Linked DNA regions of Homo sapiens: all the other regions are linked to region 2. Evidence: fine-mapped expression QTL. A gene starts in region 2. Each other region holds a variant in brackets. All regions are shown on one strand. Distances are between the middles of the regions.

What was found.
Region 1: its variant is fine-mapped to the expression of ISL2 in whole blood (INTERVAL, PIP 0.93).
Region 3: its variant is fine-mapped to the expression of ISL2 in whole blood (INTERVAL, PIP above 0.99).

What each region holds. Positions count from the first base shown.
Region 1 is chr15:76,811,730-76,819,912 of GRCh38, forward strand. All of the region lies in intron 5 of SCAPER (S-phase cyclin A associated protein in the ER), which reads right to left. Among named protein-coding and RNA genes, the nearest start is that of SCAPER, 90 kb to the right of the region's middle. The variant A/T (reference allele first, on the strand shown) is at 3,336.
Region 2 is chr15:76,333,718-76,341,900 of GRCh38, forward strand. It overlaps ISL2 (ISL LIM homeobox 2), which reads left to right and starts at 3,056. Exons shown (of 6, transcript NM_145805.3): 1 at 3,056-3,224; 2 at 4,061-4,250; 3 at 4,535-4,797; 4 at 6,559-6,842; 5 at 7,417-7,584; 6 at 8,002-8,183. The coding sequence starts at 3,167. The coding sequence ends at 8,118. RefSeq lists enhancers at 2,791-3,085, 2,897-3,396, 3,090-3,139, 3,565-4,376, 5,924-5,993 and 2 more.
Region 3 is chr15:76,440,236-76,448,418 of GRCh38, forward strand. All of the region lies in intron 25 of SCAPER (S-phase cyclin A associated protein in the ER), which reads right to left. Among named protein-coding and RNA genes, the nearest start is that of ISL2, 110 kb to the left of the region's middle. The variant C/T (reference allele first, on the strand shown) is at 4,052.

The sequences.
Region 1 (8,183 bases), 480 kb after region 2:
GTGAGCTGAGATCACGCCATTGCACTCCAGCCTGGGCAACAAGAGTGAAACTCTGCCTCAAAAAATAAAAAATAAAAAAATAAAAAAAATAAAATAAAAAAGGGAAAACAAAACAAAACAAAAAAGTAAAAAGGAGGCTTGTAGCTATAAATACCTATATTGAAGAAGAAATATCTCAAATAAACAACCTAACTTTACAACTCAAGAAACTAGGAAAAAAACAAACTAAACCCAAAGTTAGCAGAAGGAAGAAAATAATAAAGATAACAATAGAAATAAATCAAATATAGAAAAACATCAATAGCCGGGCATGGTGGCTCATTCCTGTAATCCTAACACTTTGGGAGGCCGAGGCAGGCAGATCACTTGAGGTCAGGAGTTCGAGACCAACCTGACCAGTATGGTGAAACCCTGTCTCTATTAAAAACACAAAACTTAGCCAGGTGTGGTGGCAGGTACCTGTAATCCCAGCTACTCAGGAGGCTGAGGTGGGCGAATCATTTGAATCTGGGAGGCAGAAGTTGCAGTGAGCCAAGATTGTGCCACTGCACCCCAGCCTGGGTGACAAAGCGAGACTCCGTCTCAAGAAAAAAAAAACAAAAAACAAAAATTAGCTGGACATGGTGGCATGCGCCTGTAATTCCAGCTATTTGGGAGGCTGAGCACAAAAATCACTTGAACCTGGGAGGCAGAGGGTGCAGTGAGCCACGACTATGCAACTGCACTCCAGCCTGGGTGACGGAGTGAGACTCTGAAAAAAAAAAAAAAAAAGAAAGAAAGAAAGAAAGACAGACATCAATAAAACAAAGAGTTGGTTGTATTTTTTAAAATGGCAAAACCTTAGGGTGAAAAAAAGAGATGACTCATCGGAAACATAAAGAGGGACAATACAACAGACGCCTTGAAAATATAAAAGATCATAAAAGTTGATTATGAACAATTATATACCAATACATATATAACCTAAGGAAACAGTATGTTCCTAGAAACATACAACATGCCAAAGCTGAATTAAGAAGAAACAGAAAGCCTAAACATGCCAGTAACAAAATGACTGAAATAGTATCAAAAACTTCCCAATGAAGAAAAGTCCAAAACCAGATATCTTCAGAGCCGAATTCTACCAAACATTCAAAAAAATTAGTATAAATCCTTCTTAAATACTTCCAGAAAAAAAAAAATAGTAAAGGGAAGAGTTTCAATTTCATACATGAGATCAATTTCATCCTGATATCAAAGTCAGAAAAAGATAACACAAAAAATGATGAATATACACACAAAAATGCTCAATACTAGGGAACCAAATTCAACAATACATCAAAAAGATAATATACCATAACCAAGTGAGATGAATCCCTGAGCTGCAAGGATGGTTCAATACATGCAAATCAATCAATGAGATACAACACATTAGCACAATGATAGGCAAGAAAGCATATAATCATCTCAACAGACACAGAAAAAGCATCTGGCAGACAGAGTTCAATATCCTTTCACTAAAAAAAAAAAAAAAAAAAAAAAAAAAACAACTCAACAAAATAGGTATAGAAGGAAATTTCCTCAATATAGTAGAAGTCATGTATGAAAAACGAACAGCTAACATCATAATCAACAGTGATCAATATCAACATAATAACACTTTTCATCTAAGATCTAGTACCAGGCAAGGATGCCCACTCTGGCCACTTCTAGTCAATGTAGTACTGAAAGTACTAGCAAGAGCAATCGGACCAAAAAAAAAAGAGAAAGAAACAAAAGGCATTCAAATCAGAAATAATGAAGTAAAATTATCCATGGTTGCATTTGAATTGATTCTATATGCAGGAAAATGCTACAGGTGTCACATACACACAAAAAAAGGTCAGAACTTCTAAATGAAAAGTAGCAGGATACAAAAATCAACATTCAAAAAATCTGTTGAACTTCTTTGCATCAATAACAATCTATGTTAAAAAGAAATTTTCAAAATCCTATTTATAATAGCACCAAAAGAATCAAATACTTAGGAATAAATATAATATAACCAAGGAAGTGCAAGATCTGTACACTGAAAACTATAAAACATTGATTAAAGAAACTGAAGCAGATGCAAATAAACAGAAAGCTATTCCATGTTTATGGGTTGTAAAAATTAATACTGTTAAAACATTCATACAGGCTGGGTGCAGTCGCTCACACCCGTAATCCTAGCACTTTGGGAGGCCAAGGTGGGCAGATTACTTGAGGTCAGGGGTTCGAGATCCGCCTGGCCAACATGGTGAAACCCCGTCTCTACTAAAATTACAAAAATTAGCTGGGCATGGTGGCAGGTGCCTATAATCCCACATACCCGGGAGGCTGAGGCAGAAGAATTGTTTGAACCCGGGAGGCAGAGGCTGCTGTGAGCCGAGATTACGCCACCGCGCTCCAGCCTGGGCGTCAAAGCGAGACTCCATCTCAAAAAAAAAAATTCATACTATCCAAAGTGACATGCTCAATGCAATCACTACCAAATTGTACTGGCATTTTTCACAGAAATAGAAAAAACAATGCTAAAATTTGTATGGAACTACAAAAAACTTTAAATAGCCAAAACAATGTGGAGAGAGAAAAATTAAATTGGAGGCATCACATTTCCTGACTGTAGATTACACTACAAATCAACAGTAATCTAAACTGTAATGACAGGCATACAGACAGACATGAAGACCAACAGAACAACGAAATGTAACAGAAAGCCCAGAAATAAACTCAAGCATATGTGGTCAACTAATTTTCAACAAGACCACCAAAAAAACACAATGAGAAAAGGATAAACTCTTCAATAGTGTTGGGAAAACTGAATAACCACATGTAAAAGAAGGAACTAGACCCTTATCTTACACCATACGCAAAAATAAACTCAAAATGCATTAAAGATGTAAACATGAGACCTGAAACTATAAAACTTCTAGAAGAAAACAAAAGGAAAAGTTCCTTAATAGTGACCTCAAGCAATAATTTTTTTGGTATCACACCAAAAATTCATGCAACAAAAGCGAAAATATCCAAGTGAGACTACATCAAAATAAAAACTTTCCTACAAATAAAAAGAAGACATTTAACAGAATGAAAAAGCAGGCTACAGACTGAGAAAAATATTTGGAAACTCTGTATATGATAAGGGGTTAATATCCAAACTATATAAGGAACTCACACAATTCAATAACAGGAAACAAATAACAGATTTAAAAATGGGCAAAGAATCTGAAGAAGTTTTTTTCCAAAGAAAACATAAAAATGGCTAATAAGCATAAGAAAAAGTGCTCAACATCAGTAATCATCATGGAAATGCAAATTAAAACAAAAAAAAAATC[A/T]CCTCACATCTGTTAGAAGAGCTATTATCAAAAAGATAAGAGATAATAACAACTGTTGGCCAGGGTGTGAAGAAAACCCTTGTACACTATTTGTGGAAATGTAAACTGGTATAACCATTATGGAAAACAGTATGAAAGTTTCTCAAAAAATTAAAAATACAACTACCATATGACCCAAAAATCCCTCTTCTGAGTAGATAGCCAAAGAAAATGAAATCAGCACCTCATGGAGACATCTGCACTCCTATGTTTATTTGCAGCATTATTCACAATAGCCAAGATATGGAAACAACCTTAAGTGTCCATCAATGGATAAATGGGTAAAGAAATTGTGGTGTATATATACACACACATACATACAGTCAAGCATCACTTAACAACAGAGATATACTGAGAAATGCATTGTTAGGCAATTTCATCATTGTGCGACCATCAGAGTGTACTTACAAAAACCTGGATGGTACAGCCTACTACACACCTACGTTATATGGCATGGCCTATTGCTCCTAGGCTACAAACCTGTATGGCAGGAACCTGACCCGCACAACAGGAGGTGAGCAGTGGGCCAGTAAACATTACCACCTGAGCTCCACCTCCTGTCAGATCAGGAGCAGCATTAGATTCTCATAGGAGCACAAACCCTATTGTGAGCGGCACATGTGAAGGATCTAGGTTGAGTGCTCCTTAGGACAGTCTAATGCCTGATCATCTGAGGTGGAACAGTTTCATCCTGAAACTACCCCTGCCACACCGACCCCAGTCCGTTGAAACATTGTCTTCCACAAAAACAGTCCCTGGTGCCAAAAAGGTTGAGGACTACTGCTGTATAGCATGTTACTATACTGAATACTACAGGCCAAGAGTAACACAATGTTAAGTATCTGTGCATCTAAACACAGAAAATCTACAGTAAAAATACGTTGCAAAATATTTTTAAAATGATAAACCTGTAGCATTTACCATGAATGGAGTTTACAGGACTGAAAGTTGCTCTGGGTAAGGGAGGGTGAGGGAGGGAGTAAAGGAGAGAATGGTAAGTGAAGGCCTAGGACATTAGTGTATGCTGCTGAGACTTTATAAACTACATATTTAGACTACACAAAATCCATACAAAAATTTTCTGTCTTCCTAATAAATTAACCTTAGCTTACTACAATCTTTTTACTTTATAAACCTTTTAGTATTTTTTAAACTCTGACATTTGTAGTAACACTTAGCTTAAAACACAAACACATTGTACAATTGTACAAAATTATCTTTATAACCTCATTCTATAAGCTTTTTCCTATCTAACATTTTTTTTCCTTTTTAACTTTTGTTAAAAATGAAGACACGAACACACACATTAGCCTAGGCCTACCCAGGATCAGGATCTTCCACCTCCACATATTGTCCCACTGCAAGGTCTTCAAGAGCAAGAAAATAACATGTATGGGAGCTATCATCTCCTGATGACAATGCTTTATCCTGGAATACCACCTAAGGACCTGCCAAAGGCTGTTTTACAGTTAGCTTTCTTTTTGTTAAGCAGAAGGAATACATTCTAAAATAACAATAAATAGTATAAAAATACATAAGCCAGTAACATAATTTTTTTTTTTTTTTTGAGATGGAGTCTCGCTCTGTTGCCCAGGCTGGAGTGCAGTGGCGCTATCTCGGCTCACTGCAAGCTCCACCTCCCAGGTTCACACCAGTCTCCTGCCTCAGCCTCCCGAGTAGCTGGGACTACAGGCGCCCGCCACAATGCCCAGCTAATTTTTTTTGTATTTTTGTATTTTTAGTACAGACGGTGTTAGCCAGGATGGTCTCGATCTCCTGACCTTGTGATCCACCCGCCTTGGCCTCCCAAAGTGCTGGGATTACAGGCGTGAGCCACCGTGCCTGGCTGCCAGTAACATAATTTATTATCATCATCATCAAGTACTGTGTACTGTACACAACTGTATGCACTATACTTCCATGCAACTGGTAGCACCATAGGCTTGTTTCTATCAGCATCATCACAAACACTGAGTAATATATTGTGCTACAACATTATGACAGCTATGACATCACTAGGTGACAAGAATCTTTCTGGTCCATTATAATCTTATGAACCACCATTGTAGGTCAGCTGTTGATTGAAACACTGTTATGCAGCACATGACTGTACAATGAAATATTATTCCACCTTTAAAAAGGAGATCCTGACATTTGCAACAATATGAATAAACCTCAAGGACATTGTGCTATGTGAAATAAGCCAGACCTACAAAGAAAAATAGTGTATGATCTCATTTATATATATATAATCTAAACAAAGTCGAATACGTAGAAAGAAAGGGACAATCAGTGGTTGGTTAACAAGGTCAGGGGGAGGAAGGAAATAGGGAGATGTAGATTAAAGGATACAAACTTCTAATTACGTAGGATGAACAGGTCTACAAATCTAATATACAGCATGAGGGCACTAGTTAATGATAACGTATTGTATACTAAAAATTCACTAAAAGAGTAGTTTTGTTACTCTTACCACACACACAAAAAGGTAACTATGTGAGGTGATAGGTTCATTTGCTAGACTGCAGTAATCATTTCACTACATATATGTATGTCAAAACATGTTATAAATCTCAAATATATATAACAAATATATATGTAAATAAACAGAATACCATTTACATTAACACCCCAAAATATGAAATACTTAGGTATAAAACTAACAAAATATGTATAAGATCTATATTAGGAAAACAACAAAACTCTGATAAAAAAAATTAGAAAACTAAGTAAATGGAAAGATAATCCATGGATAGGATGACTCAATATTGTCAAAATGTCAATCAGTTCTTTCAAACCTGATTTATAAATTCAATGCAATCTCAATCAAAATCCCAGCAAGTTAAGCTGATTCTAAAGTTTACAGCAGAAGCAAAAGACTCAGTAGAGCCAATACAATTTTGAAGAACAAAGCTGGTGGACTAACACTACCCAATGTCAAGAAATACTAAAAAGCTATAGTAATCAAGACAGGGTGGTACTAGGATAAAAGACCAACAGGTCAATGGAACAGAACAAAGAGCTCAGAAACAGACCCACATAAATATAATCAACTGATCTTTGACTAACGTACAAAGCCAATACAAGGGAACAAAGATTGTTTTTCAACACATGATGCTAGAATAAATGGGACATCACATGCAAAAACTAATGAATCTAGACACAGAACTTATAATCTTCACAAAAATTAACTCAAATTGGATCCTAGACCCAACTGTAAAATACAAAACTATACAACTCCTAAAGTATAACTTGCAGGGAAAAAACCTAGATGGTCTTGGATGCAACAATGAATTGTTAGATACAACACCAAAGGCACAGTCCATGAATGAAAAAATTGATAAGCTGGACCTCATTAAAATCAAAAACTTCTGCTCTGCAAAAAACAATATTGAGAGAATAAGACAAGCCACAGACAGGGAGAAAATATTTGCAAAAGACATACAAGAGACACTGTTATCCAAAACATACAAAAAACTCTTAAAACTCAACAATAAGGGGGGTGGAGCCAAGATGGCCAAATAGGAACAGCTCCAGTCTACAGCTCCCAGCGTGAGCGACGCAGAAGATGGGTGATTTCTGCATTTCCAACTGAGGTACCAGGTTCATCTCACTGGGGAGTGCCAGACAGTGGGTGCAGGACAGTGGGTGCAGCGCACCGTGCGTGAGCCAAAGCAGGGCAAGGCATTGCCTCACCAGGGAAGCCCAAGGGGTCAGGGAATTCCCTTTCCTAGTCAAAGAAAGGGGTGACAGACGGCACCTGGAAAATCGGGTCATCCCACGCTAATACTGTGCTTTTCCAACAGGCTTAACAAACGGCACACCAGGAGATTATATCCCGCACATGGCTCGGAGGGTCCTACGCCCACGGAGCCTCCCTCATTGCTAGCACAGCAGTCGGAGATCAAACTGCAAGGCGGCAGCGAGGCAGGGGGAGGAGCACCCACCATTGCCAAGACTTGAGTAGGTAAACAAAGCGGCCAGGAAGCTCGAACTGGGTGGAGCCCACCACTGCTCAAGGAGGCCTGCCTGCCTCTGTGGGCTCCACATCTGGGGGCAGGGCACAGACAAACAAAAAGCAGCAGTAGCCTCTGCAGACTTTAATGTCCCTCTCTGACAGCTTTGAAGACAGTAGTGGTTCTCCCAGCATGCAGCTTGAGATCTGAGAACAGGCAGACTGCCTCCTCAAGTGGGTCCCTGATCCCCAAGTAGCCTAACTGGGAGCCACCCCCCAGTAGGGGCAGACTGACACCTCACATGGCTGGGTACTCCTCTGAGACAAAACTTCCAGAGGAACGATCAGGCAGCAGCATTTGCAGTTCACCAATATCCTCTGTTCTGCAGCCACTGCTGCTGATACCCAGGCAAACAGGGTCTGGAATGGACCTCCAGCAAACTCCAACAGACCTGCAGCTGAGGGTCCTGAATGTTAGAAGGAAAACTAACAAACAGAAAGGACATCCACATCAAAAACCCATCTGTACGTCATCATCATCAAAGACCAAAGGTAGATAAACCACAAAGATAGGGAAAAAACAGAGTAGAAAAACCGGAAACTCTAAAAATCAGAGCGCCTCTCCTCCTCCAAAGGAACGCAGCTCCTCACCAGCACAGAACAAAGCTGGACGGAGAATGACTTTGACCAGTTGAGAGAGGAAGGCTTTTGCACAGCAAAAGAAACCACCATCAGAGTGAACAGGCAACCTACAAAATGGGAGAAAATTTTTGCAAGCTACTCATCTGACAAAGAGCTAATATCCAGAATCTACAATGAACCCAAACAAATTTACAAGAAAAAAACAACCCCAT
Region 2 (8,183 bases):
GTGACCTGAGGCAGTAACTTCCCCTCTCTGAGCCTCAGTTTCCTCGAGGATTGGAGGGGCCCAATACTACTCACCACATGGCATTACTTTTAAGACCTAATAGGCTAACAACAAGGACTTTGCACATGGTGGCCCTGAACAAATATTTGTTTTGACCTGGCTTCCTAGCATCCCAGGAGGGGTGACCCTCTCCAATCCCCACCTCCCTAGTGAAGTTTCAAAGGACAGGTTTTTCTGGACGGGAAGGAAGAGTTTCTCTGGGCAGGAGACGGTTAAAAGCTGGGACTACGATTCCAGCCTGGGGCTGCCCCCTCCTGGCCAGCTGTCTGAACCCCTGAATTATAGATGTGCTTGCTCCTGGCCTGGCGAGCAAGAGCTAGTAGGTGCTGGGAGCCAGGCCTAGTCCAGGGTCACCTAAGGGTAGGGCCATTGGGCCAGACGCACCTCCTCACTCCACATGCAGACACACACACCGAGTCCCCTCCCAGTTCTGACTGTGCACCCACATTCACAGATATAACCTGTACACAAAGTCTATGCACAGACCACACATCTCCAAACCCCATCTACACAGCAGACACACACACAGCAAGCACACATCGAAATCACAAAGAAATCATCAGATGACACATACTGAGACATACTTAGACCTCCCCTCCCCATCCAGACACACGCAGGCAGGGTGGGCAGAGGCTCCCAACATAAAGATACAGCCACAGTCATAACTGTCATAATTAACACATATGGAGCACTTACTCTGTGCTAGGTATTGCTCTAAGCCCTTTCCAGAGAACAGTTTATTTAATTATTATGTAATAGAGATAGCTACAATTATTATACCCCCATTTTACAGATGAGGAAACTGAGGGAAGGAGAATTAAAATAAGATGCCTGAGGTCACACAGGTGTCCTGGCACAGCCTCAGGCACAGATACCCACCCCCTCGCTCTTGTCCCCCATTTACATAAACACATTCATTCAAACGCAGCATCCCCCAACCCCTGACCTGCCCGCACACACTCAGGGTGAGCGCTCTTTGGGGGACTGTTGACTAAAGACGCAAGAAATGGCCTATTGGCCAACGGGTGGTAAACTGTAACAAGAGCCGGTCCGGTGGCCCGGCGCGGTGGCTCACGCCTGTAATCCCAGCACTGTGGGAAGCCGAGGTGGGCGGATCACGAGGTCAGGAGTTCGAGACCAGCCTGACAAACATGGTGAAACCCGGTTTCTACTAAAAATACAAAAATTAGCGGGGCGTGGTGGCGCTCGCCTGCAATCTCAGCTACTCAGGAGGCTGAGGCAGGAGAATCGCTTGAACCCGGGAGGCGGAGGTTGCAGTGAGCCGAGATCGCACCATTACACTCCAGCCTGGGCGGCACAGCAAGAGTCTATCTCAAAAAAAAAAAAAAAAAAAAAAAAAAAAAAGCCGGACCGGTGAGAAGACTAGACCTCCTAAAGGTGGAGGCGGAGCTCAAAAGCCGGACGCTACTGGACGAGGCTTAAAGCGCTCGCCCCAGCGCGGGGCCGGTGAGGAACGTTCACCGTGGACCATGGTCGAATAATGTTAGCGTGCACTCGGGGCCTCGCCCTAGCCTTCTGCAAAGCCTCGGCCTGCGCCCTCGGCTGCATCCGTTTCGACGCCAACCAACCTCATGCTCTTAGTAGAACGGCAGTAGCGACCGCGCCCTCAGGCCCACAAGCCCGAAGGTCTGGGCAGGGTCTGGAATGGCGGTGGAGACACTTTATCCGCAGGCGTTTCACCTCGCGCCCCACCCAGGCGCACACCAAGTTCTTGGTACTCCTTTTAATGGGAAAACAAGAACAGACACCATGGTTGGATAAATGTTATTTATAATTCATGGGCCGGTCTTTGAACCCTTTCAAACAAAACCCACAGCGATTTCTTTGAAAGAATGCCTGGACTGTGCTCAGAGCTCTCAGATTTTCTCAGGACCAACGAGCCGCCGCCTCGCAGATACCACTGTAAATTACCCAGCGCCTTACGTTCGTTTCTGATTATTTGCATTGCAGTGGGTTTGTTAATGAAGGACAAGAGTTTAGAAAAATCTTTTATTTTGGAAGTTGGACACGCAATCGACCCCAGCAGTGTTCCTAAAAGGAGCTATGCCATTTGGATGGGGGAAAAATGAGGGGGCGGGGAAGTCCATGTTACATTTAAAACAACAACAGCAACAAATTAAAAGCAAAACAAAACAACAAAAAAAAGGAAGTGGAGCAGGAGGAGGAGGTGGTGGTGGAGGAGAGGGAGGAGGGGCAGCAGCAGCGGCAGCAGCAGCAAGGATGGAGTCAGGACCCGTCCCAGTCCCGGGTGAGCGCTTTTGGATCTGGGTTCTGGCTCAACCCACGTAATGCCCCAATCTAAAGTTTTCTACGTGTGTGTGGATAGGAAAGTCTAAATAGAGTTTATCAGAACCCAGGTGGTCATTCTCTACACTCTCTCTAGCTTGGACCCGAAGAACAAAGGCACATGAGAGGAGAAAGGTGACCAGCTGGACGATGACGGTCACGTCCAAACGGATCCCCCTTGTCCTCGGCTCTCTCGTCCTGAGAGTGGGTTTAATTTTTTTTTTTTTAATTTATATAAGAAGGGAGCTCTTAAAGGAGAGCCATCTCCACCCTCAGGTATCCATCACCCAGCTCCAGCGCGCCTGGGAAAACCGCCCCGAAAGTCCAAGAGGAAGCTCAGAGTTGTAACGGCCGCGGAGCCAGCTCGGCGGTGACGCAAGGTCCAGTCCAGATTGCCAGGCCCGGGGCATGAGAGAGGATCCTTGTAGGTTTCGGAGGTGGGGGGGCTGCACTCCATTGTTCACTCCGGGCCAATCAGGGTTGGCCCACTTCCTCCCAGCCAATCTCCCTTCACCCCCAGCCTCCAACCCAACCCACCCCGCCCATCAGCCCCTGGATCCCCATCACCTCCCCCGCATCCCCGGCAGTTCTGGGGAAGCTTCGTGACGCCACAGGTCCCGCCCCCAGCTCCGGCCCGGGGCTAGTGCGTGTTGACGTCATGCTGCGTGCGGGCCGGTGCGGAATCGCTCCTTCAACTCCGCGGGGCAGTAGGAGTTAGTTAGCAAAGAGCCGAGGCCGGGCGCGCGACCCTCGTCCTTCTGCCCCTGGCCGCACACTTTGCGCACATCTCTTTTTCTGCATGGTGGATATTATTTTTCATTATCCTTTTCTGGGTGCTATGGGTGATCATTCCAAGAGTAAGTATTTCTGTGTGTGTGTGGGGTGGGGTGTGTGTGTATGCTTAATATGCAAAATTTCTAATGCAGAAAAATGTTTAGTGGATTCTACAAGTGGCTTCTATTTGTCAGAATAGTTTAGGAGAGGAAAAACGAATGCATGTCTCCTGCAGGACTGCTTATCTTTGGGAATCCTGTTGTTTTATTTTATAAGTAAACACTATTTCTCAAGCCGGCTAGGATGACTTCGGGCTGCGAAATCTGCTTCTGTTTTGCGCAAAGGCAATTAGGTTTGATTTAGGGATGTGGGTTTTTTTTTTTTTGGTTGTTGTTTGTTTGCCTTTCGGTTTTTCAAAGCTAGGAAGCTTTCTTTCGCTTGCTCTGGGATATTTAAACTAAGAAATGTCTGAGAGGATGAGCGGGGACTGCCGAAAGACGATGTGTCTGTGTTGGGATAGGAGGCAGCCGCTGTGAGTGGGAGTGTGTGAGCGGAAATGCCAGGACAGCACCGTTAGGTGTTGATATCCAGGCGTCCGCAGTGCCTGTGTATTTACTCTCTTCTTAGTTTCGTGTTTGCGTTTAGTTTCAAGACACGTCGACAAAACGACTGTCATTAATGAATGTAATAACGAAATATTTGGGGTGGGGGACAGAAGAAACCTTCAGCAATCCACAAGATACTGGTTTTTCGTTTCCAATGCCCTGGACCTTTAGAGAGCTCATCATCTTTCCTTATGGTCGCAAGTCTTGAAAGAAAGAGCAAGAGAGCGAGCGGGTTGGGTTGGGGCTGGAGTAGCCGAGGCCGGCCTGGGTCCGGGCAGTCAGGCCTGACGCGGCCCCGCGCCCTTCCCCGGCAGAGAAGCCCGGGACGGCCATGTGCGTGGGCTGCGGGAGTCAGATCCACGACCAGTTTATCCTGCGGGTGTCGCCCGACCTCGAGTGGCACGCGGCCTGCCTCAAGTGTGCCGAGTGCAGCCAGTACCTGGACGAGACGTGCACGTGCTTCGTGAGAGACGGGAAGACCTACTGCAAGCGGGACTATGTCAGGTGAGGCCGGCGGGAACGCGGGCTGGGCCACCGCGCGCAGGGGCCGGGGCCGGGACTGGGGATGGCGGCCTGCCCGCGCGCCCCGGCCCTGCCCAGGGAGAAGGCCATCCGCATCCCGCACGGGTGCCGCAGCGCTCCCCCGGGCCCGGGAATGCCCGCAGGCGGGTCACCGCAGTCTCCTGGTGGCCACAAAGTGTCCTGGGCGCGCGCCGGAGCCGTAGCAGCCAGGGAGATGAGGGCGGCCGCAGGCCCAGCGCTGACACCGCCGCACCTTGGGCCCGCAGGCTGTTCGGCATCAAGTGCGCCAAGTGCCAGGTGGGCTTCAGCAGCAGCGACCTGGTGATGAGGGCGCGGGACAGCGTGTACCACATCGAGTGCTTCCGCTGCTCCGTGTGCAGCCGCCAGCTGCTGCCTGGGGACGAGTTCTCGCTGCGGGAGCACGAGCTGCTCTGCCGCGCCGACCACGGCCTCCTGCTCGAGCGCGCCGCGGCCGGCAGCCCGCGCAGCCCCGGCCCGCTTCCCGGCGCCCGCGGCCTGCATCTGCCCGGTAAGCGCGCCGGGGCCTGTGCCGGGGTGAGCGGGGTGTATGTGCGTGCGTGTGTGTAGGGGTACGCTTGTGTCCCTAACGAGAAGTTGTCAGTTGTGTGTGGTTCCGTCTGCCGGGATAGTGTTTTTCTGTATCAGTGCGGAACTGTGTGCTGGGAACAAGGCTGTGTGTATTCTCGTGTGCTCGGGAGAAACTGCGTGTGTATGAGTGTGTGAGCACGGAGAATTGTGCAGAATCGTGTTCTCCATGACCAGGAACATGCAGGGCACAGTGCTAGGAGCAGAAGAGTGGATGACAACAGGGAATCTTAAGTGGTGTCCGTCTTGGGGCTTGTATTAGGAATTTCTTGGAGGAATATGTGTTATTGTCAGAGGGTAAGGTTTGCCCAGGGGTATGTGTGTAAGTAACACAGCTCCAAACTGGGAGCTGGGCAGGAGCTTGGTCAGCCAGGAGCCAAGAACCCAACAAAGAGGGGTTTTTGCCATCTTGTTTTGAGGCCCAGTTTGATGAACAATTTAGCCAGGTTCTTCTGGGGGAGGGGGAGTATCAATGCATAGTGGACTGTCACTGGAATATTCTGGGTCCTAATCAGCAGCTGCCCAGAGATGGGGTCTGAGTGTATAATGGGCAGGTACGGCTGAACAGAAACAGAGGTGCCTCCACCCCAGGCAAGGCAGTTTCCCCCAGGTAGCCATAGGCCTGCAGCACAGATCCGTAGACCAGGCTGGGCCTCTGGGTGCTGTGTGGCCTTGCCCCGCTCCTCCCCTCTCTGGATCTTCACTTCCTCCCTATAGAAAGAGGAAACTGGGCTGGATGGGCTATTTGTAAATATTTGTCCAGACCTAGAAATTCGTAGAGGGGAACATAAACCGAAATGGTGCAGTACAGATCCACGGTATATATGGGTCGGGATCAAATGGAGATGTGAAATGGGAGCAAGCGGGTATTCAGTGCACCCCCATCTGGGATCTCGGAGAGGCTCCCCTTTGTTTGTTTCGGGCTTCAGGGTGCAGGCTCTGGAATCAGTCACTGTTTCCCCGGGATGGAGAGAACCTGGGGCCAAGCGAGGAGAGTGCCAGCGGCTGCTCAGCACCTTGGTCGGTGGGAGGCCACTGGGCTGGGGAACCTGGAGCCTTGAGGAAGGAGACAGGGGCCGAAGCCCAAGGGCGGGCAGGAAGGAACTGTTGCAAGCCCTGGAGGCCCGTCCATAACCGTGGATGAGTCTTCTACACATGTGGCCTGGCCCTGTCCAAATGGGCTCTGAAGGAGGGGAAGGGCCCTCGTAGGCCCCCGGCATATTCGCACCTCCCACCCAGTCCCCTGGGCAGCGCCTCGCCCTGGGTCCACGTCGGTCCCTTTCCCTCTCCAGAGTCCTGGGCAAGCCTCTTTCCTCTTCCTCTGAAACTCCGACTTCTTCCGGAGGGCTTCGCTCGTTCCGAGGGTCCTGCGACTGGAGGAGGCACATCCCTGAGCAGCCACTCCCTCCCCGCAGCGGCCTGTCGCCGAGCTCCCGCGCCCTGCTTGAGCTCGGGAGAGATCGCTGCGGGGCAGTCCGGCCCGGGAGCGAGAGAAAGAACGAAAATGCACAGCTCTCTCCGAGTAAGGCGAACAGATGGAGAGGAAGACGAACAATTAAACGAAACAAACAGAATAAAACAGAAACGAAATCGGGCCCCGGGGGGCTGGGCCACCCGGAGGTTGGGCTCGGGGCGGGTGGGTGGCGGCCCCTCGCTAACCTCTGGCCTCACCCTGTCCTGGCAGACGCTGGGTCGGGCCGGCAGCCCGCGTTGCGCCCGCACGTGCACAAGCAGACGGAGAAGACGACCCGCGTGCGGACTGTGCTGAACGAGAAGCAGCTGCACACTCTGCGGACCTGCTACGCCGCCAACCCGCGGCCCGACGCTCTCATGAAGGAGCAGCTGGTGGAGATGACCGGCCTGAGCCCGCGGGTCATCCGCGTCTGGTTCCAGAACAAGCGCTGCAAGGACAAGAAGAAATCCATTCTCATGAAGCAGCTGCAGCAGCAGCAGCACAGCGACAAGACGGTGAGCAGCCGCTGGGCCGGAGGCTCGAGTCGGGTGGGGGCTGCGCTTCCGCCGCGGTATCTGCGTGCCCTTTTCTGGGCGAGCCCTGGGAGATCCAGGGAGAACTGGGCGCTCCAGATGGTGTATGTCTGTACCTTCACAGCAAGGCTTCCCTTGGATTTGAGGCTTCCTATTTTGTCTGGGATCGGGGTTTCTCCTTGTCCCAGTGGCAGCCCCGCGTTGCGGGTTCCGGGCGCTGCGCGGAGCCCAAGGCTGCATGGCAGTGTGCAGCGCCCGCCAGTCGGGCTGGTGGGTTGTGCACTCCGTCGGCAGCTGCAGAAAGGTGGGAGTGCAGGTCTTGCCTTTCCTCACCGGGCGGTTGGCTTCCAGCACCGAGGCTGACCTATCGTGGCAAGTTTGCGGCCCCCGCAGATCCCCAGTGGAGAAAGAGGGCTCTTCCGATGCGATCGAGTGTGCGCCTCCCCGCAAAGCAATGCAGACCCTAAATCACTCAAGGCCTGGAGCTCCAGTCTCAAAGGTGGCAGAAAAGGCCAGACCTAACTCGAGCACCTACTGCCTTCTGCTTGCCCCGCAGAGCCTTCAGGGACTGACTGGGACGCCCCTGGTGGCGGGCAGTCCCATCCGCCATGAGAACGCCGTGCAGGGCAGCGCAGTGGAGGTGCAGACGTACCAGCCGCCGTGGAAGGCGCTCAGCGAGTTTGCCCTCCAGAGCGACCTGGACCAACCCGCCTTCCAACAGCTGGTGAGGCCCTGCCCTACCCGCCCCGACCTCGGGACTCTGCGGGTTGGGGATTTAGCCACTTAGCCTGGCAGAGAGGGGAGGGGGTGGCCTTGGGCTGAGGGGCTGGGTACAGCCCTAGGCGGTGGGGGAGGGGGAACAGTGGCGGGCTCTGAAACCTCACCTCGGCCCATTACGCGCCCTAAACCAGGTCTCCCTGGATTAAAGTGCTCACAAGAGAGGTCGCAGGATTAACCAACCCGCTCCCCCGCCCTAATCCCCCCCTCGTGCGCCTGGGGACCTGGCCTCCTTCTCCGCAGGGCTTGCTCTCAGCTGGCGGCCGGTCCCCAAGGGACACTTTCCGACTCGGAGCACGCGGCCCTGGAGCACCAGCTCGCGTGCCTCTTCACCTGCCTCTTCCCGGTGTTTCCGCCGCCCCAGGTCTCCTTCTCCGAGTCCGGCTCCCTAGGCAACTCCTCCGGCAGCGACGTGACCTCCCTGTCCTCGCAGCTCCCGGACACCCCCAACAGTATGGTGCCGAGTCCCGTGGAGACGTGAGGGGGACCCCTCCCTGCCAGCCCGCGGACCTCGCATGCTCCCTGCATGAGACTCACCCATGCTCA
Region 3 (8,183 bases), 110 kb after region 2:
AAATGAAACCCAATGTTTATAGGACCAAGCCCTGAATCAAAATGTTTTCAGCGAAGTTAAATTAAAAGTCATTATAACTTTTAAAAGCCAAGCATGTATTCTTTTTTCCCATTGCCAAAGTGGTTTCAAATACTTTCAACATTCTTGTTTGCAATACAGAAAGATGCTTTTATTAGTAATAGAAATCTATTGTTCTGTAATGTGATTCCATGAGAGAGAAAATAAAATTAGTAATTACTGGTAATTCTGTACAACTATTTTTTAGTATTCTGAAGATAGGTTTACATATTTTCAAGCTGTACAGTGTATACAGAATGCTCAGAATATGAATTAGGTTCACTGAGAATCAATAAGAGATTGTTTAGAAAACTGTCAAGACAGTGTCAGAGTACAGAAAAAAAAGGCAAAAAACGTGGAAGGGCTCCAGCAGCAGACACAAGTTCTTATATTGTTGGCCTCATTTCCTATACGAAACAGTCACTAAACATGCAACAGTCTTTTTGCCACTGATATTTATAAAACGTGTATGCCCATGTTATATTATGCATAAAAATAGAACTGATGAAAGGTATTTACCTCAACAATTTACATGGCTTGAAAATATAAAAGGAAATCACATAGAAGTGGCTAGTAGTTCCTCACTATTATCTTTTAAAATTATTCCCCTTCTGGTTTTTTTTTTGTTTTTTTTTTTTTTTTTTTTGGGGACGGAGTCTGGCTCTGTCGCCCAGGCTGGGGTGCAGTGGCACGATCTTGGCTCACTGCAAGCTCCGCCTCCCAGGTTCACGCCATTCTCCCACCTCAGCCTCCTGAGTAGCTGGGACTACAGGCACCCGCCACCACGCCCGGCTAATTTTTTGTATTTTTAGTAGAGACGGGGTTTCACCATGTTAGCCAGGATGGTCTCGATCTCCTGACCTCGTGATCCACCCGCCTTGGCCTCCCAAAGTGCTGGGATTACAGGTGTGAGCCACCGTGCCCAGCCTATTCTCCTTCTTTTTATGCCACAAACAATGTTATGACAATATTAAAGAAGACACTGCAATTAATCCTAAATATCATTACCCTTTCTAACATATTTATGCCTTTGAGCCTATATTTATGCAGCCAAAATCCTAACAAGATAAAATGTCAGCAAACTTTATAGTGTATGCCTTAGTGGTCATGATGCTTACAAAAGTCTTCGTTATACATGTTGAATCATATACTTCCTCTGCTCAACACATTCCCTGGTATCTCATTTCCTGCAAACTAAAAGCTCCAAACCTCATGATGCCCAAGGAAGCCCTTCTGATCTATCCTCTACATCCATTCCTCCCCAAATTAATATACTAAGTCAGTCTGTCTCTTGCTCGCATTCTGGTATTTCCTCTGCCTGGAATATCTTTCCCCCAGGTAACCTCATGACTAATTTCTCCACTTCTTCTAGGTCTCTATTCAAATGTCATCTTATCCATAAGTTATGCCAGAGTGTCTTATTTAAAGTAATATTTCTCTCCCCAAACCTATCTTCCCTTTCTTGCTTACTCAACTTTATTTTTCTTCCAGTGCAATAGTTACCTCCTGACATACTGTACATTATTTCCTCTCTCTCTCAGAATATAAGCTCCACGAGAGCGAGACTTTGTCTTGATCACTGCTACAATCCCAGTGCCTACACAACATCAGACATGTAGTAGATGTTCACTAAATATTTTTTAAATGCATGTAGACACTGATTTTCACTAAAAAAAATTCACCAAACCAATAATTGGGATATTTAGAAGGTCCAAGTTAAAGAGAAAACCAGCATTAAATATCTATCTATCTATCTATATATACATGTATATATAGATATAGATATATATAGTATTTAGTCATCCTGGGCAAAGGTGTAAAGTGAATTAAAGGAAGAAAGGAATTTTGCACGCAAAATCCTTCTCTATGCAATATCCTACGTGTTCACCTCTTACTCCTGCTTCAGTTACTGTAGTCTATGAGGTACATCTTTTCTTTTCCCCACCCCCCAAAATAAGTTATGTGCCTCACTGTAATTCCCAAACACCTTGTACATGCTGTGCTTTACTGCAGCACTCATTATACTACATTTTAAATGTCTCTTACTGGTTTGTCCTACTAAACTGTGAGTTACAATTTGTCTCTGTAGTTCCAGTGCCTAAATATTTGTCCAATGAAAGAATGGGTAGGTTTTAGAGGCATTTACATAGCAACTTTGGTGTGTTGGGAGCACTGTCCTGGGAGGCCTGAGTCTCTCTCATTCTATCTCACCTGCTGCTACCAGCATGACTTGTGAGTATCCAGTTCCTTATGTATAAAATGAGGACATTCAGCTTTAATTAATATTTACTGAGAGTCCACTGTAAGATGGCAAGCTAGGTCCCCTTATACATATTTATCCATTAAATGTTTATAGCTACCCTCCAGTATATCTATTATTATGCCTATTATGCAAATGAGAAAACAGAGGCTCAGAAAGGTTAAGCAACTTACACAAGATCTTGAAGTCAGCAAATAATGTAGCAGCTTCTCAAATTCAAAACATCTGACTCCATGTTAGGTGATATACCCTAACACCATTATATCTTTCCTAGTATAAGGATGGACTCAATCTCTGAGACCTCTTTTAAGTCTCAGATTCTGTAGGTCTTTATTTATGAGTATGAAGTTATTCAAGTAATCTCATCTATCTGGAATACAGGCAAAAACCAGGAAATAATTTAAAAAACCAGTGAAAAAGGTGGTGGGGGCATGTGTATTGATGCAAATGAGAAGACAGATAAACAGCGAAAGTTGGGGTAAAAAACACCACCACTGAGGGAATCACCTTCTAAAAATAATGATAGATGGTGGACCTTGATGAATGGAGAAAATCAGAGACTCCCAGAGTTGGAAAGCCTAAAGTTGATTATCTAGTTCATCCTCCCAAACAGTGCAGGGGCTCCTTAATATAAGAGGTCTTCAAAATGTTTGTGAAAAATGTGTATTTTGAAAAAACTATGCATGGATTTCAATTATTTTTGCACCAAAATAAACTTACACCAACTTGTTATAACATGTCTGAAGAGGCTCTAGTTGGAAGCACAAAGAAAGATAAGACATCCATTTGAAAAGATCCCCTTTAAGAGCAAGACGAATTCTGCTAACATTGAAGCAAGAACAAACATCAAATTTATGGTGAAGCTTGGGTGGAAGAATTGTGAAATCACTGGTGTTTTACAAAAAGTTTATGGGGACAATGGCCCAAGGAAATCAGCAGTTTACAAATGGATAACTTGTTTTAAGAAGGGACAACATGATGTTGAAGATGAAGCCTGCACCAGCAGACCATCTACATCAATTTACAAGGAAAGAATTCATTTTGTGCTCTAATTGAAGGTGACTGATGATTAATAGCAGAAACAACAGCTAACACCACAGACTTCTCAACTGGTAGCTTATACAATTCTGACTGAAAAATTAAAGTTGTGCAAACTTTCCACTTGATGAGTGCCGAAACCATTGTGTCCAGCTCAGCTGCAGACAAGAGCACAGCTTTCAATGGAAATTTTAAACAAGGGGGATTAAGATCCTGAAGCACTTCTTGGAAGAACTGCAATAGGACATGGCTTTACCAGTATGATTCTGAAGACAAAGCACAATCAAAGCAATGGCTACCAAGAGGTGGAAATAGCCCAGTCAAAGCAAATGCGGACCAGTCAAGAGCAAAGATCATGGCAACATTTTGGGATGCTCAAGGCATTTTGCTTTTTGACTTTCTGGAGGGTGAAAGAATGATAACATCTGCTCATTATGAGTGCGTTTTGAGAAGGTTAGCCAGAGCATGAGCAGAGTAACACCTGGGAAAGCTTCACCAGAGGGTCCTTTTCCACCACAGCAATACTCCTGCTTATTCTCATCAAATGTAGGCAACTTTTCAAGAGTTTTGATGGGAAATCATTGGGCATCCACCTTTCAGTCCTGATTTGTCTCCTTCTGACTTCTTGTTTCCTAATCTTAAAAAATCTGTAAAGGGCCCCATTTTTCTTCAGTTAATAATGTAAAAAAGATTGCA[C/T]TGACATGGTTAAATTCCCAGGACCCTTAGTTTTTTAGGGATGAATTAGGTGGCTGGTAGTACCACTTATAAAAGTGTCTTGAACTTGATGGAACTTAAGTTAAAAAAATAAAGTTCACATTTTTTATGTTCATTATGTAATTCAGTTTTTCCACAAGTTTTCCCTCTCTCCTCACTGCTGTAAACTAATCTTTCCCATTTTTAAATAAAATTTTGTTATTTCAGAACCATTTATGTTTAATCTAATTACCTATGTGTTAGGGCTTAAGTCCAACAATTTACCTTTTGTTTATTCTGTTTGTGGTCTGCTCTGCTTCTTGAACCCACACATTTACATCTTTTGCCAAATTTGGGACCATTTCAGCTACTATTTCTTCAAATACTTTTTCATCCCTGTCTTTTTTCTACTTCCATGAATCTGATGACATGAATGTTAGATCCCATGAGTCTGGTGACATGAATGTTAGATTTCTTGTTATGGCTCCATCAGTCCTTAGGTTCTGGTCACTTAAAACATTTTGGTCTGTTTTCTCTGTTGTTCTTCAGATTGGGTAATTTTGATCATTCTAACTTCAAATTCATTGATTCTTTCATCCTTTCTCCCCATTCAGTCATTGGAGCACATTCATTGACTTTTAAAATTTTGGATTATTATAGTTTTCAATTATAGCATTTCACTTGGTTATTCTTTATATCTTCTATTTTATTTCAATAGCTTTAGGGATCAAAGTGGTTTCTGGTCACATGGATGAACTGTATAGTGGTGAAGTCTGGGATTTTTGTGCACCTGTCACCCGAATAGTGTACACTGTACCCATTTCATCCTTTACCCTATTCTCACCTTTTCTCCTCCTGAGTCTCCATTGTTCATTATACCACTCTGTATGCCTTTGCATACCCATAGCTTAGTTTCCACTTGTAAGTGAGAAAATATATCTTCTATTTCTTTGCCGAGACTACTTTTTCATTTGCTTTAAGCATATTTGTAATTGCATGTTGAAGCATTTTTATGGTGGCTGCTTTAAAATCCATGTAAGAATTGTAACATCTGTTGTCTTTTCTCATTCAGGTTGAGATTTTCCTGGTTCTTTCTATGATGAGTGATTTTTAAATTATATTCTGGAAACTTTGTGTATGATAAGACTGTATCTTATTGAAATCTTGTTTTAGAAGACCTCCTCTGACACTGTTCTGATGGGGGGCAGGGAGTGTCACCTCATTACTGTCAGCTGGGGGTGAAGGCTGCCTCATTATCAGGTGAGGGCAGGAATTCAGGCTTCTGAGTTAGCCACCTGGAGATGGCATGTTACTGATATCACCACCTGGAGATGGCATGTTACTTGGTTTCCACAGGAGGGGTTTCCACATGAGGGGATGGGATAGGGCTTGTTACCACAGGAAGCTGGTGAGTCCTGGCATCTCACTTGGCCCCTTCTGGCACCATCCTGGTGACTGGGGAAGGAGAATCTCACTATCTCTCAGTAGGGGTAAAAAATCAGGCTTCCAATACAGTCTCCATGCACCCCGGGTGGAGGTGCATCATTACTGCTGGATGAGGATTAAAATCTCGATTTCCCACTCAGCCTTCTCTAACACCACCAAGGGATGGCGAGAGGGGCGTTGCATGAGTGCTTAACCCTTTCTTAAGACCTCTGATTCTTCCAGAGGTAATATCCACTCTTACTGCACAGGGAATTTTCTTGTAGAAATAGTGGTAGAAGGGGCAGTAGTGATAATAGTAATAGCAGCTAACATTTAGTGGGCACTTAATGTGAGGTTCCATGATAACAGCTCATCTGGATCATTTCACTTAATCGACACAACACTCTCACAAATCATAAATATTGTTATTCCTATATTCAGACAAGAAAACTAGGGTTCAGAGAGGTTAAATCACATCAGGGTCAGGATTTCAATCCAGGCTGTCTCACTTCTGAGCCTGAGTCTTTAACTATTGTAGTATACAATACTGAAAATTAATCAAGGTGACACGTGAAAGTGCTCAAAAATTATAAAGCACTAAACAAGCGTGATGGAAGTTTTATTACTATTTCCAGGGCACTGCAACAAGTGATCATGATTAGATAAATGAAAATCCAGGCTTCAACTGGTGCTAATGAATCATTTAAACATTGTTTCTCATTGCAATAGCTGCCCAAAAGACATGTTTCATAGCAAAAGCTGCACAAGAACCTGGGGAAGTTTTAGAGGTAGAGCTTTAGTGAAATACAAGTATCTATTATTTTCTCATAGGTTGTTTTTGCACATATAGGGAACTGAAATTTCCTTTAATCTCTTCAGGCAAGCTCAATAGAAACTTATAAGGACAGATGTGTTATGGATAATCACTAAGCTTTGCTATCCACTTTATAGGATGGAGATTAACATTCTGGAGAACCCCCTACAGTTTAAAGAGGCAGTTATGTGCATATCCTGAAGTAGACAAATTCATATGAAAAAGGAAATGTATGTCATCCATAATCTCATAATACTGTGAAATATATACAGACAGTCCCCAACTTGCCATGGTTCAACTTATGATTTTTTGACTTTATCATGGTGTGAAAGAGATACGCGTTCAATAGAAACCATACTTCGAGTACCTATACATCCATTCCCTGTTTCACTTTCAGTACATGATTCAATAAATTACATGAGACGTTCAACACTTCATTGTACAACAGACTCTGTTTTAGCTAATTCTGCCCAACTATAAGCTAATGTCAGTGTTTTGAGCACATTTAAGGTGGACTACGCTAAGCCATGATGTTTGTTAGGTCTGGTGTATTAAGGGCTGAAGGTTAAGCTGATCACCAATGGCTAATGATTTAATTGATCATGCCTATGGAATGAAGCTTCCATAAAAACCCAATAGGATAGGGTTTGAAGAGCTTCAGGAGCATGAAACACATGGAGGTTCTTGGAGGGTGGTGCACCTGGAGAGGGTAATCCATGCTTCTTTTCCTCATCCTATAAATCTCTTCATCTGTATCCTTTGTAACATCCTTTGTGATAAACTGGTAAATGTAAGTGTTTCCTTGAGTTCTGTAAGCCACTCTAGCAAATTCATCAAACCCAAGGAAAGGGTCATGGGGAACTCTGATTTATAGTCATTTGGTCAGAAGCACAGGTAAAACAACCTGAGACTTCTGATTGGCATCTGAAGTGGTGGACAGTCTTGTGGGACTGAGCTCTAAACCTGTGGGTATGATGCTACCTTCAAGTAGTCAGAATTGAATTGAAGTAGAGGCTCCCAGCAGGTGTTTGCTGCTGAAGGACTACTTGGCTTGGTGTGTGTGTCGGAAGACCCCTAAACATCTGAGGTCACAAACTCATTTTGTGTTGTGAAAGTATAGCTGAAACTGAGTTTGTTATTCCTATATTCTTAGACACCTATCTCTGAAATAATATTATTATCTGAACTACAAAACACATTAGCTTACAACAATTGCTTTCATTCATTGAACATTTTTTGAATACTATGTCCTCGACTCTGTGATAAACTCAACAGGTGAAGAGGAAAAACATGGTCTTGCCTCCCAGAGTTCACAGGTAAGTAAAATGTAATTCGAATTCCAGGTGATAAGTAAACTCATGGTCTTATGAGGACAGGTGCAAAGTGCAGTGCCTGGGGAAGGTAACCCCTGAGCTGAGTCTCACAGAAAGAGGAAAAACTTAGCCTGCTGGGATGGTGGTGATGTTGGGTAGTGAAGAGGACACATGAGGAAACAGCATGAAAGAAGACAGAAGAGAGTATGTGTGTTCAGGAAGCTGCAGGTTGCTGGAGATAGTTGGACTAGTGGTGTATGAGACTGTCAGATCACACAGGCCCTGCTATACTGAGGGGTTTAGCTCTCAATTCTGAGCATAAGGGGTAAGACAATGAAGGATTCTAAGCTAGAAGTGACATGAAAAGTTTTCATTTTTTGAAAAATGACTCATCACAATATGTAGGCTGCTATGGGAAGGGTTACAATTAACAGCAGGGAAGGAGGCTATTATATTACTTAGAAATGAAAGATGATGGGAAATGGAGAATAATCTAATTGACTGCATATTTAGGGAAAGGGGGAAAGAAGAGTGAAGGGAGGGATGGTTTAACTTTCCTAGGTTTCTGGCTTATATGGTAGAG